4 linked regions of the Homo sapiens genome follow. The protein of the gene in region 1 purifies or fractionates together with the protein of each later gene. This does not show direct contact. Each region holds a gene or a part of one and is shown on either strand. Other genes may lie near its edges.

The links.
Region 2: the proteins of OAT (region 1) and DDX19A fractionate together in Homo sapiens (co-fractionation; one large-scale study listed by BioGRID). This does not show direct contact.
Region 3: the proteins of OAT (region 1) and UAP1L1 fractionate together in Homo sapiens (co-fractionation; one large-scale study listed by BioGRID). This does not show direct contact.
Region 4: the proteins of OAT (region 1) and AADAT fractionate together in Homo sapiens (co-fractionation; one large-scale study listed by BioGRID). This does not show direct contact.

What each region holds. Positions count from the first base shown.
Region 1 is NC_000010.11:124,396,803-124,399,363, forward strand, and holds the end of OAT (ornithine aminotransferase, mitochondrial isoform 1 precursor), read right to left. Parts: intron 1,301-2,561; coding exon 1,140-1,300; 3' UTR 501-1,139; downstream 1-500. UniProt on the Homo sapiens protein: Catalyzes the reversible interconversion of L-ornithine and 2-oxoglutarate to L-glutamate semialdehyde and L-glutamate.
Region 2 is NC_000016.10:70,363,903-70,367,402, reverse strand, and holds part of DDX19A (ATP-dependent RNA helicase DDX19A), read right to left. Parts: intron 2,861-3,500; coding exon 2,758-2,860; intron 2,387-2,757; coding exon 2,272-2,386; intron 1,471-2,271; exon of another isoform or gene 1,392-1,470; coding exon of another isoform or gene 1,319-1,391; coding exon 1,141-1,318; intron 780-1,140; coding exon 542-779; intron 1-541. UniProt on the Homo sapiens protein: ATP-dependent RNA helicase involved in mRNA export from the nucleus.
Region 3 is NC_000009.12:137,080,517-137,082,777, reverse strand, and holds part of UAP1L1 (UDP-N-acetylhexosamine pyrophosphorylase-like protein 1), read right to left. Parts: intron 2,090-2,261; coding exon 1,904-2,089; intron 781-1,903; coding exon 714-780; coding exon of another isoform or gene 606-713; exon of another isoform or gene 148-605; intron 142-147; coding exon 49-141; 3' UTR 1-48.
Region 4 is NC_000004.12:170,059,722-170,062,839, forward strand, and holds the end of AADAT (kynurenine/alpha-aminoadipate aminotransferase, mitochondrial), read right to left. Parts: exon of another isoform or gene 3,009-3,118; intron 2,273-3,008; coding exon 2,171-2,272; intron 1,249-2,170; coding exon 1,207-1,248; 3' UTR 501-1,206; downstream 1-500. UniProt on the Homo sapiens protein: Transaminase with broad substrate specificity. Has transaminase activity towards aminoadipate, kynurenine, methionine and glutamate. Shows activity also towards tryptophan, aspartate and hydroxykynurenine.

The DNA of each region.
Region 1 (2,561 bases):
GAGAATCATGTGAGCCCAGGAGGTGGAGGTTGCAGTGAGCTGAGATCGTGCCACTGCACTGCAGCCTGGGCGACAGAGAGAGACTCCATCTCAAAAAATAAAAACTAAATTATCAGGCCCAGAGAGGCAATAGAATGAAATCATAGTCAGGTCACTCTCTCCCAAGCTACATAATTACCTCTTGAAGCCAAGTATCTATCAAATGCCATATACCCTGTAGTTCAACAGCATATAGCCAATCACTAACCAAGGTTAGTTCTGTAAGCCAATGAGAATTCCTGATAAACAACTTTTGTAATCACCCCTTCACCTTGTGTCAGTAGAGGGTATAAGAGCAGCTGATCTATCCTTTTTTCTTTAAGAAGTGTTCTCTGGAGCACTCTCCAGGGCAACCTGGAAGTGTGTCCCGAGCTGCAGTCCCCAACCTTGGCCCACCTAAACATTCTATATTAATTTTGCCTCAGCTTCTTCCTTTTAAGGTGAATAATCATCACAAAACAGACATTTGAAATATAAGCTTTATTTTAAATTTAAAGAAGTATTGAAAATAAACATTTTTTACAAATTATAATCAAGCACTCAAAACAATTTAGGAATGTTAAACACTAATTCTTAATTCAAAATAATGACATCCATAGAATACAACCCTGGTGTTGGCCAATATGAAGTTTACTTAATATTAGTATTTTATATACACTTAACCATTAATCCTTCCTAAAATTCAATAACAATGATTTCACTTTATAAGATGAAGCCTTTTATGCAATACCCAGAGATAACTTTTTCAAATATGAAACACTTATACCAGTGAGGAAATTATAAAAACATATATCAATTATACTGAAGGACTTGATTTAGAGGCTGTCTGTATATAGATGCATTTCACCTTAGGAAGTACACATGCACATCAAAACACTTCAACTGAATATAGATGCCATTACATTATTTAGTTACGTTACAAAGCAAACGGCAGGTTCATAAACGTTGTTCTATTATGTATCAACTGAAAAAAATATATTCAAAAAAAAAGTTTTTGAAGACTCATGGGAGTGGAATGTGCCCACATTAGGAATAAAGCTTTTACAGGACCACCTGTCTCCAGCTGGCTCCCAGGGACCACTGAAAACAGCTGGCTACCCTCAGAAAGACAAGATGGTCTTGTTAATAATTTCAATGGACTCTCGAAGCTCATCCTCCTTGATCACCAGCGGAGGCGCAAACCTGATAATGTCGCCATGGGTTGGCTTGGCCAGAAGTCCATTATCTCGAAGTCGTAGACACACCTTCCAAGCATCCCAATCTAAAGAAAAATAGTAAAACGTACATGCTCAAAGATAAACGTTTAAACATCCCTTGCCGTATGTATGGGCAAAGTGCAGCCTGGCAAAACAAAATTAACAGAACTTGCTCAACTAAGGGAAGCTTGGGCTGGGAGCGGTGGCTTATGCCTGTAATCCCAGCACTTTGGGAGGCCGAGGTGGGTGGATCACGAGGTCAAGAGATTGAAACCATCCTGGCCAACATTATGAAACCCGTCTCTACTAAAAATACAAAAATTAGCTGGGCATCATGGTGCGCACCTGTAGTCCCAGCTACTCGGGAGACTGAGGCAGGAGAATCGCTTGAACCAGGAGGCGGAGGCTGCAGTGAGCGGAGATCGCGCCACTGCACTCCAGCCTGGTGACAGAGCAAGACACCGTCTCAAAAAAAAAAGAAAGGGAAGCTTGGAGCTGCAAGCTTGCTTTGTTTTTACTCCTAAAAATGAAGTTACTCTTCACTTTTCAGCAAGCACATAACTAGGTTTGAATGATATGATTAGACATATCATAGTTTTTCATAAATGAAAAAGACCAAGCCAAAAAAAAAAAAAAAAATGTGCTAAGGCTGCTGTATTAATCACACAAGGAACTAATGCAAAAGAACTTGGGTATAGGCTGGATGCAGTGGCTCACACCTGTAATCCCAGCACTTTGGGAGGCCGAGGTGGGCAGATCATGAGGTCAAGAGATCGAGACCATCCTGGCCAACATGGTGAAACCCCATCTCTAATAAAAATACAAAAATTAGCCTGTCGTGGTGTGGCACATGCCTGTAGTCCCAGCTACTCAGGAGGCTGAGGCAGGAGAATCGCTTGAACCCAGGAAGTGGAGGTCGCAGTGAGCCAAGATCATGCCACTGTACTCCAGCCTGGCGACAGACACTCCAGCCCAACAGAGCAAGGCACTGTCTCAAAAAATAAAATAAATAAAATAAATAAAATTCTAAAAAAGAAAAAAAAGAACTTGGGTATGATACAGATGATTAACTGACATAAAATGGGCAATACTCAAAACCCAGTGAACACTACACATTCCAAAAAGGGACTCGCTTCCTGAGCTCAACATATTATAGCAGCGATTCTCAACCTGGCTGCACATCAGAATCACCTTAAAGGCTATTGCTAATGCCTGTGCCCCGTCCCAGATCCGTCAAATCAGAATCCCTGGGGTAAGGCCAGGCTTTGACTCATTTTTTTAAGAAGCTCCCCAGGTGATTCTTTTTTTTTTTTTTTTTTTTTTTTT
Region 2 (3,500 bases), on another chromosome or scaffold:
AGGCTGGAGTGCCGTGGTGTGATCTCGGCTCACTGCAAGCTCTGCCTCCCGGGTTCACACCATTCTCCTGCCTCAGCCTCCCGAGTAGCTGGGATTACAAGCGCCCGCCACCACGCCGCGCTAATTTTTTGTACTTTTAGTAGAGATGGGGTTTCACCGTGTTAGTCAGGATGGTCTCGATCTCCTGACCTCGTGATCCACCCATCTCGGCCTCCCAAAATGCTGGGATTACAGGCATGAGCCACCGTACCCGGCCATCTTGTTGAATTTTTTATTTTTCTTACAAATATGAGTTGATTCTCTTGGGTTGTGCAACAATACATCATCCACAAATAAGACATAAAGTTCAGGGGCTCTATCTTTAGGCTATGTATCCCTTGGGATACTACCATTACCCCCACTAAAGGAGAGCCTGTCTCTTACATCTTCAAAAAGCACTTCCCTTCTTTCCATGGCGCTCAGGGGCATCCAGTCCTCCTGAGCCCTGTGGGGAGCTGGCTGAGAGGGAGGGGCCAGGCCTGCCACTGCCGCTGCTACTCACATGGCAGAAGATCATGGCTTGAGCAATGGTGATGGCCCCGTAGAGGTTACACAAGGCCTGGAACTTCTCGTCTCTGCTGCTGCACAGGACATAGTACTGCTTGATGGTATCCAGGGTCTCTTCCTCACGCTTCAGTTTGATAACATTTGGGTCTGGGACCACTTTCTGGGCAAACTTCCACACAGAGTCTTCAAAGGTGGCGGAGAAAAGCAGCATCTGGCAGTTCCTGGGCAGCATCCTGCAAGGGAAGGCCCGGGTAGATGGCCCCAGGTGGCCCTGGGAAGCAACGGAAGCACAGCCTCCCCAGCTGGGAGGGTCTAGATGCCCAGGAAGGCTGATGGGGGAGGAGCATCTTGGGGAGGAGGAGCAGCAGGCCTGGGATGGGGACAAGGGTTGGGGAAGAGTCCCTAGGTCTCCTTTCTCAACCCAGGTTGGGAGGGACTGTGATCAGCGCTGACATGGAAATGGCCCGTCAAACAAATGCTGCTGAGAGTACGAGAGCCAAGACCCAGGCAGAAGCCAGAGGAGGCGTCTGAAGTGAAGGGAGAAGACACTGCAGATGGGGAGTCTGAGGAGTCCCCCACCCTCGAGATCCCTACCTCTGGATGCGGATGCTCTGATCTTGGTGGCCCTGAGTGGCTATCATGACATCAGCCTCATCCAGAACAAACACCTTGATTTTCTTGGGATCAATGAACTTGAGCTTGGAGCACCAGTCCAGCACGGTCCCAGGGGTGCCAATGACAATCTGCTCACTGATCTTCTGGCCTCTTTCCACTGTGGAGACCCAGGTGATTTTCATAGGTATTTCAAAGGCAAAGCCAGCTCTGGAAATCAAAGCCCTGCCCATCCTTCTAGGACTAGGAGAACAAGTTATTTCCAGATTTCAAAACACACATGAGTGTTCCCCTCAGTCTTGGTCTCTTCTGCTGTGAAGTGGGCAGAATGACACCTATCTCAGTGCACTGTGGTCAGGATCAAATCCCACACAGCAATCCTTCAATAAGCATCAGTTCCCTTCTTCTTCCTCCTATAATCCAACATCATCCAACTCTTTTTATGTTTATTTATTTATTTATTTTGAGACAGGGTCTCACTCTGTTGCCCAGACTAGAGTGCGGTGACACAGTCATGGCTCACTGCAGCTTTGACCACACAGGTTCAAGCGATCCTCCTGCCTCAGCCTCCCAAGTAGCTGGGACTACAAGCTGGCACTTCCACGCTTGGCTATTTTTTTTTTTTTATTTTTTGTCTTACTATGTTGCCCAGGCTGGTCTCGAACCATGTGCTCAAGCAGTCCTCCCACCCTGGCCTCCCAAAGGGCTGGGATTGCAGGTGTGAGCCACTGTACCTGGTTTTGCTTACTTTTAAAGAAAGGGAGCTGACCCCAACCTTCCATCCTCAGTCCTGTTAATCCCTCTTTGGTAGCAGGTCCCAGAACTCTGGACGCTAAATTCAAAACTCTACCTTCTGAGCGAAGAACTCTAGATATTAAGAACTCTGTGAGCCATGCGTGGATTTTTTTTTTTAATCAACCGAAAATCTTATTTTAAGACTGAAAAAGACTGTTAACAAATTAGCAGGTATTCAAATAGATTCAAATAGAGCAACACAGTTAGGCTCCAGGGTCAGACTGAATTAGAAAGTTGAATACGGTCATCGCATCTTCAAAATTCAAACGCCCAACCCCCTACCCTGCTCACTGTTCAGTTGTCGCCTGCCGTACTCACATTTATTGCCTCGAACGGCATAGGCAAGCTTCAGTTCTGGGTAAAATTTGCCCATCTGCTCAATCACTTTTCCTGTTTGAAGCGCCAGCTCATATGTTGGGGAGAGGCACAGACACTGACAGAAAAATCATAAAGGATGAGTTTAGGAGAGCCATTTGGTAACAGACCTGAAGGCACCCAGTATGCTGATGTTATTAGCACTTGAATAGCACAGGGAAGCATGTCCTCCCATCCAGGCCCACCTTTCAGCCATAGACTGAAGCCTGCAGCAGGTAGCCCTGGCTTGGCAGAGGCCTTTGCAAGCCATGGTCTAAGGCTGCTGCTTTCAAGCACATTCTCCCAGGTCAGGGCCTGGTGTAGGAACTTGCTCTGCCTGAGCCACAGCCTAAGGTGTCAGAAGCTTCAGACCTCTCGTTACTCCTCACCAGATGGCACTGCGCTCCCCAGGGCAGGCAACCTAGGACACCCAGCCCCGCAAGCCCTCACCTGGGGGTATCTGTCTGATGGCTCCACTCGGCTGAGCATGGCTAAGACAAAGGCAGCTGTTTTACCAGTGCCAGACTGAGACTGGGCAATCAGATTCTGTGGGCTGGATCAAGGAAGAACAGAAATGAAACTTAAATTGGTGAAACTCAGTAACATGTCAAAATGTTCTTTCTGAATGAAAGGCATATTTCCCCCTTCGTGCTTCTCTATATTACCCAGGTTTTCTCCATTGAGCACAAATTACTTTCATACATTTTTTTATACGCTGTTAAAAAGCTGCTTAAATTGTAAAATAAATGATTATTTTAAATGGGCTCACACCAAGAAATTCTCATTCTAGCCTCTAGCACAGCTAAAGGACCCCAGTTTTGCACCCCAAGGGGCACAGGGAAATCAAGTGTGCAGAGTAAGATCTGTGCCCAGACAAGACCCCAGCAATATTTTTGGCTGAGCCATGATGCATTCCCAGAATTTGGTTCCTTCTGTGTGTGCCTTTCCCCAGTTTTATGGACAAGATGCTAAGTCAGGTGGATGTTTTAGAGGGAACTTTTACATTCCATTTTATGGGACCCAGCATCATGGGAATAGGTGGCATGGTTGTCATTAAAAAAGATAAATATGGCTTACGCCTGTCATCCCAGCACTTTGGGAGGCCGAGGCAGGCGGATCACAAGATCAGGAGATCGAGACCACCCTGGCTAACACAATGAAACCCCGTCTCTACTAAAAATATAAAAAATTAG
Region 3 (2,261 bases), on another chromosome or scaffold:
TGCCGGGGCTGGCAGGTCTCGGGGGAGTCTGGGGACAGTCTGGGCGGGTCAGGACTCCTGCAGCTGCGGCTCCCTGGCCTGGTCTTCATCCAGGATGAGCGGGGACTGGAACTCCCGGCCTTGCAGGTACACTTCTAAACCCTGGAGACGAGCAGGGGACAATGGCCAAGTACCCACCTTTTGGCGGGTCACAGCCCCTCTGGCCACACCAAGAGCCACAGTCCCCAGGTGCGATCCCAGGTCTGCCTGGAGTCAGGGAGGGGTGGGGACAGAAAGGCTTCCAGGGCCAGGAGCAGACACACACTGCAAGGCCACCCAAGACCACACTCAAGACCCTAGGCCAGCAGGGGACCCTCCTGTCACGCACAGGTCTGACCTGACCAGAGAAAGGGGCAAGGGCAGCCGAGGTCAGGGAGGTAGCAGAGGCCGGTGTCCTCCCTCCGCAAGGCCCCCACCAAGGCCTGACTGGCCCCACACTGGGCTCAGACCTGGGCTGTCTCATCCCCATGCCCTCCCAGGACCTGCAAAGGCCTCTGGATGCCTCACCCCACCCCAACCCATATCTTGGAAAGTCTTCTGCAAATTTAAACCACCGACCCCATTGGTTAACCGAGGTAGAGCTGTGCCGTCTCCACCCGAGCAGCCACCTCTCCCCAGATGGTATTCCAAACCTGACACCAGAAAAGCCCCAGATAGGGATGGGCAGCTCTCACCTCTCCAGAGTAAGACACCAAGGGCGATATCTCACAGATGGCCGGAGGGTCTCCATTTGGGGGCAAGCTAGGGAAAGTCCACTTGTCAATATCTCCTTGCAGCACCTGCCCAGAGCCCTCCCCCAGCACCCCCAGTCCCGATAGGAGACTGAGCTCTACACACCTGGCTCCCCACAGCTCCTGTCTCAGCAAGCTCATCTTCCTCTGGACACCCCAAACCCTGAGCACACATCCCACTGCCAAGTGACAGGACCTGATTTGGGGTAGAAAGCACCCCCACAGGCCTCCCACGCAGAGCCTAGGCAGCTAGATTTAGGGGTGGCCCTAGAAAATCAGGGAGATGGAAGCCAAACGTCCTTTTCTTTCCCAGCCCTGAAATCAAACTGTCCTGCTACTTTCTAAATTCATGCCCGGGGCTCAGTTTCAAAGCCTGTGAATAAATGGGAACAACGTTGGTTGGGTGATGGATCCCCTAAAAGCCCTGACCTGACTGACCAAAGTTGCACACACACCCCACAAATGTATACAAATAAGAAAAATAAAAATAAAAAAATAGCCGGGTGAGGTGGCTCACGCCTGTAATCCCAGCACTTTGCGAGGCCGAGGCGGGCAGATCACAGGTCAGGAGTTTGAGACCATCCTGGCTAACACGGTGAAACCCTGTCTCTACTAAAAAAAAAAAAAAATACAAAAAAATGAGCCGGGCGTGGTGGCGGGCGCCTGTAGTCCCAGCTACTCAGGAGGCTGAGGCAGGAGAATGGCGGAAACCGGGGGAGGGTGGAGCTTGCAGCGAGCCGAGATCCCACCACTGCACTACAGCCTGGGCGACAGAGCGAGACTCCATCTCAAAAAAGTAAATAAAAATAAAAATAAATAAATAAAAGCCAAATCTAAGTATGCCTTTGTAAACAAACCAAAACCTTGTGGATAAGTTGGGGAGGGAGTTGGGGAGCCCCTGCCTCCCTCAGTGCACTGAGCACAACTTGAAGGGTCGGGCCAGGAGGCTGTGCCGACAGTCACCGTGTGACCTGGAGCTGGCTGGGCACAAGGCTACCTGCACCTGCGGTGGTGCCGGGAAGGAAGACCCCTCCCCAGCATGGCTGTCGCAGAGCCAACAGGGCTCTGGAGCTGAAGATTGGGTCCTGACAGCCCTCCCCTTCTGGCTGTAGCTACCCCAGGGCCACACTCACCTGGGCAGCTCTGGGAGCCAGGCCCCATGGGCATCCAGGAAGCGGGCCCCGGCCCGCAGAGCCCACCGGTAGTGCTGGGTGAGCAGGGCCTGGCGAGCGGTGCGGGGACTGTCCCTGTCGGCTGGCTCTGCGTTCTTCAGTGGGGAAAATTCCTCCTCCCGCAGCACTTCCAAGGCAGCAAAGTTCCTGGTGGGGAAAGGGCTAGTCACCCACGTCCCAGCACAGAGGCCCTGATCCGGGCAGGTGAGAGCTGGGCCAGGTTTCCAGTGACAGAGTGAAGGTCTGGTCCCATGGGCAGCAAGTCTAGGGAGGAGCCCCCGCAGGTACTGAGTGTTTTTGCTCCTGAGACGCCAGGGAT
Region 4 (3,118 bases), on another chromosome or scaffold:
ACATAAACTTCCTAATTCCGCAAAGATACTTACAACTTTACAATTATTGGGTCATAGGACACTTCGTCAATTTGTTAAACAGAAAATGAATAGAAAATGAATACAGGGTATTTATGATACACTGTCACAATGAGATCCTATTCTAGATATTACATGTGTATGCAGAGAACATTGCAAAGGAAGCATGCTAAATGCTTATAGCAGTTATCACCAGGGGTGAGACAGTGAGTGGCTTTTACTTTATTCCTTATACATTCTGGATTGTTTGAAAATTCTAAAATGAGCATATCTTACTTTAATAAAGATTTTAAAAGGTGAGAAAAAAATAGTTAAAAAATATTTCCTAATACCTTAAAGGGTTGTAGTAGATTTAAATTACATAATTGATAAGAATGTATTTTTGTAAATTATGTAGTATTATGAAAATACAATGTAGTAAATTTTCCTAAGTCCATGATCTCCCCTCCTTACTTAGAATTAATGGGTCTGATGCCTTTAGGTATGTTTAGTTTAAGAATTTTATTTTAAAGGAATTTCTGTGGCATAACATAAGGTTTATGGTACTTTTACTAAAAGTCACTTATAATGACCAAATTATAACAATTTTTGCAATAAGCTCTCATTAAATTTTCCTAAAAGTAGAAAAAGTACACATTATATACCATTTTGCACTTAATTACTTCTTTAAAATCTCAAAATAATTCAGTGTAAAATGTTAGTTTCAAAGACAATTTATGGGAAATTACAAAGCAACTACAAAGTTCTTCATAATAAATCCAAGATAAAAGTAACTTTTTACAGGTTGAAAGTTTTTCAAAATGCCTAAGTGGATTATAAATACAGTTTGGCCATCTGATGAATTTAGAGGCACTTTAAAAGGTGTCTAGTTGAACTACTACAGATAGGACATGTTTGAGGAAATTTAATCTTTAAGTCTAATACCAGTGTTCATTTCTTCCTGCCAAAACAAGAAATTTATTGGAAAAATCCATGAGCAGCATGATTAGTTTGATTTCTTTCTCTTTTTTTAGAGACAGGGTCTTGTTCTGCCATGCAGGCCAGAGTGCATGCAGGCCAGAGTGCAGTGGTGTGATCGTAGCTTACTGCAGCCTTGAATTCCTGGGTTCAAGTGATCCTCCCTCCTCTGCCTCCCAAAGTGCTGGGATTATAGGTGTGAGCCACCATGCCCAACCTAGTTTAATTTCTTCATAAAGATTCTTTTATAAGTTGTGCTAATACCTGGAAGGCCTAAAACAGAAAAAAAAAATTAGAATTAATTAAATTAGGATACTATATTGGAAAACTCTGTAATAACTTTAAAAATCCAAACAAAGAGTATCTGTCTAAGGTTGAGAGAAGGCATTGAAAAGTCAAGTTTAACATCAACTTTATCTGTGCAGGATGCCATCAATTTCTATTAAAATATGAAGACTGAAGTACATCAGATTTTCAGGATTTTGTTGTTGTTGTTGTTCTCGTGGCCTTCAAGATCATTTTCCATTTTATCCATAACATGGATTATTTTAGATTTTACATAATCTCTCACCTGCATTTTATATAGATTCAATTGCCCAACTCCACTAATACATTAAAACAGAGAGACCTTATGAAAAACACATTTAATGACATGAGAAAGCAAGTAAATAAAGAACATGCCAAAAATGTCCCTTTCCAAGGATAAATATAAACTCTTCTCAAGGTTAATGGCACTGTTCAATTTATAGCTCTTCTGTTTGATTTCCACATACACAGCTTATTTTGGTTAAAGCTAGATTGTGATTCAGAATATTATTCTATTTGACCCTTGCTGATACTTTTTTCTTCAGAGAAAGTGACAGCCATCATGAATTTGTACTTCTGGCTCATGTTAATTCAATAAAGGAAGGAAAGAAGTTTTCCTCATAACATGACAATTTACGCAGCTCAGTAGGTTGTGATACATTATTCATGCAGACAATAAATTTTAACTCCAATTTAGTCTCATTTCTATAGAAGTCTAGCAACAAAGTAAAATGGGTCTTTTAATGATAGTTCATGACTGGTCAACAAATATCTGAATTTTAGAAACCCAAACAGATATTAAGTAATATTCTAATTCACAAAGTATACACGTGCATTAAAAAAACAGAACTGCTAGCTAGTGTTACTCTGAGGAGAATACTACACTCACCACATCCATCTGTTCTGGAGAAGCTGAAGAGAAGGATGCTCTCAAGTAAGGGCTAGGAGCTGAGCTATCGACGTAGAAAGCATTTCCAGGGAGCATTAATACCTAAGAGAGTTTGTGGAAGATAAGTAATGTACCACTAAAGAAAAACTCAAAGATAATATAGTTAAGCCTAATCTCAGAGTAGGGAAGGATGTTTTAAGTTTAAAAGCAGTTAAAGAAATCACAAGAAAAAATACTAATTTATATAAAAATTGCGTATGTCATACAATGAACAAAACTAAACACATAGAAACTGAAAAAATGTTCAGAATCAATATGGCAAATGCTATCTCTTCTCAAAACATCAGGAATACACGAAAACTGAGAACACTCAAATTTCAGCTTTAATGTAGAAAGGACAGCTTCCTAAAGAAAGATAAATGGTAATAAATACAAACAAATGTTTAATCTAACTAGAAAAGTAATTTTTAAGTTAATAAGTCTGAAAGTTACTTTTAAGCTGGGGCCTGAAAGATAAATTACATCAGGCAAAAAGCAGGGAGCAGTATTTGAGGGCAAAGATACACAGAGTAAAGGCCCTGAGATGGGAAGAAAATTGCTGCATTCAAAGAACTGAAAGGAGGTAAAAAATGTAATGTATAAAATGAAGAAATAAAAGTATTAAATAAGCGTGTCAAGATGGGGTGGTCGGAACAGCTGCTGTTCTTGATGGCCACACAGGCAGACAGCTCACTGACTGTAAGCTCCATTTCCTCTTCTTCCTGGGCATCACATGTACCCTATTCCCCGGCCTCTTTCTAGCTGTGTGTGACCATGAGAGCGAATCCTAATCAATGGATGTGAGTAGAAGCCAGGTAAGAGATGTCTAAGGTTGGCCCATACAAATCATCCCATGTGTGATCTGCCATGCTCTTTCCATTTTGTAGCCATCTTGGAATCTGTGTGTTG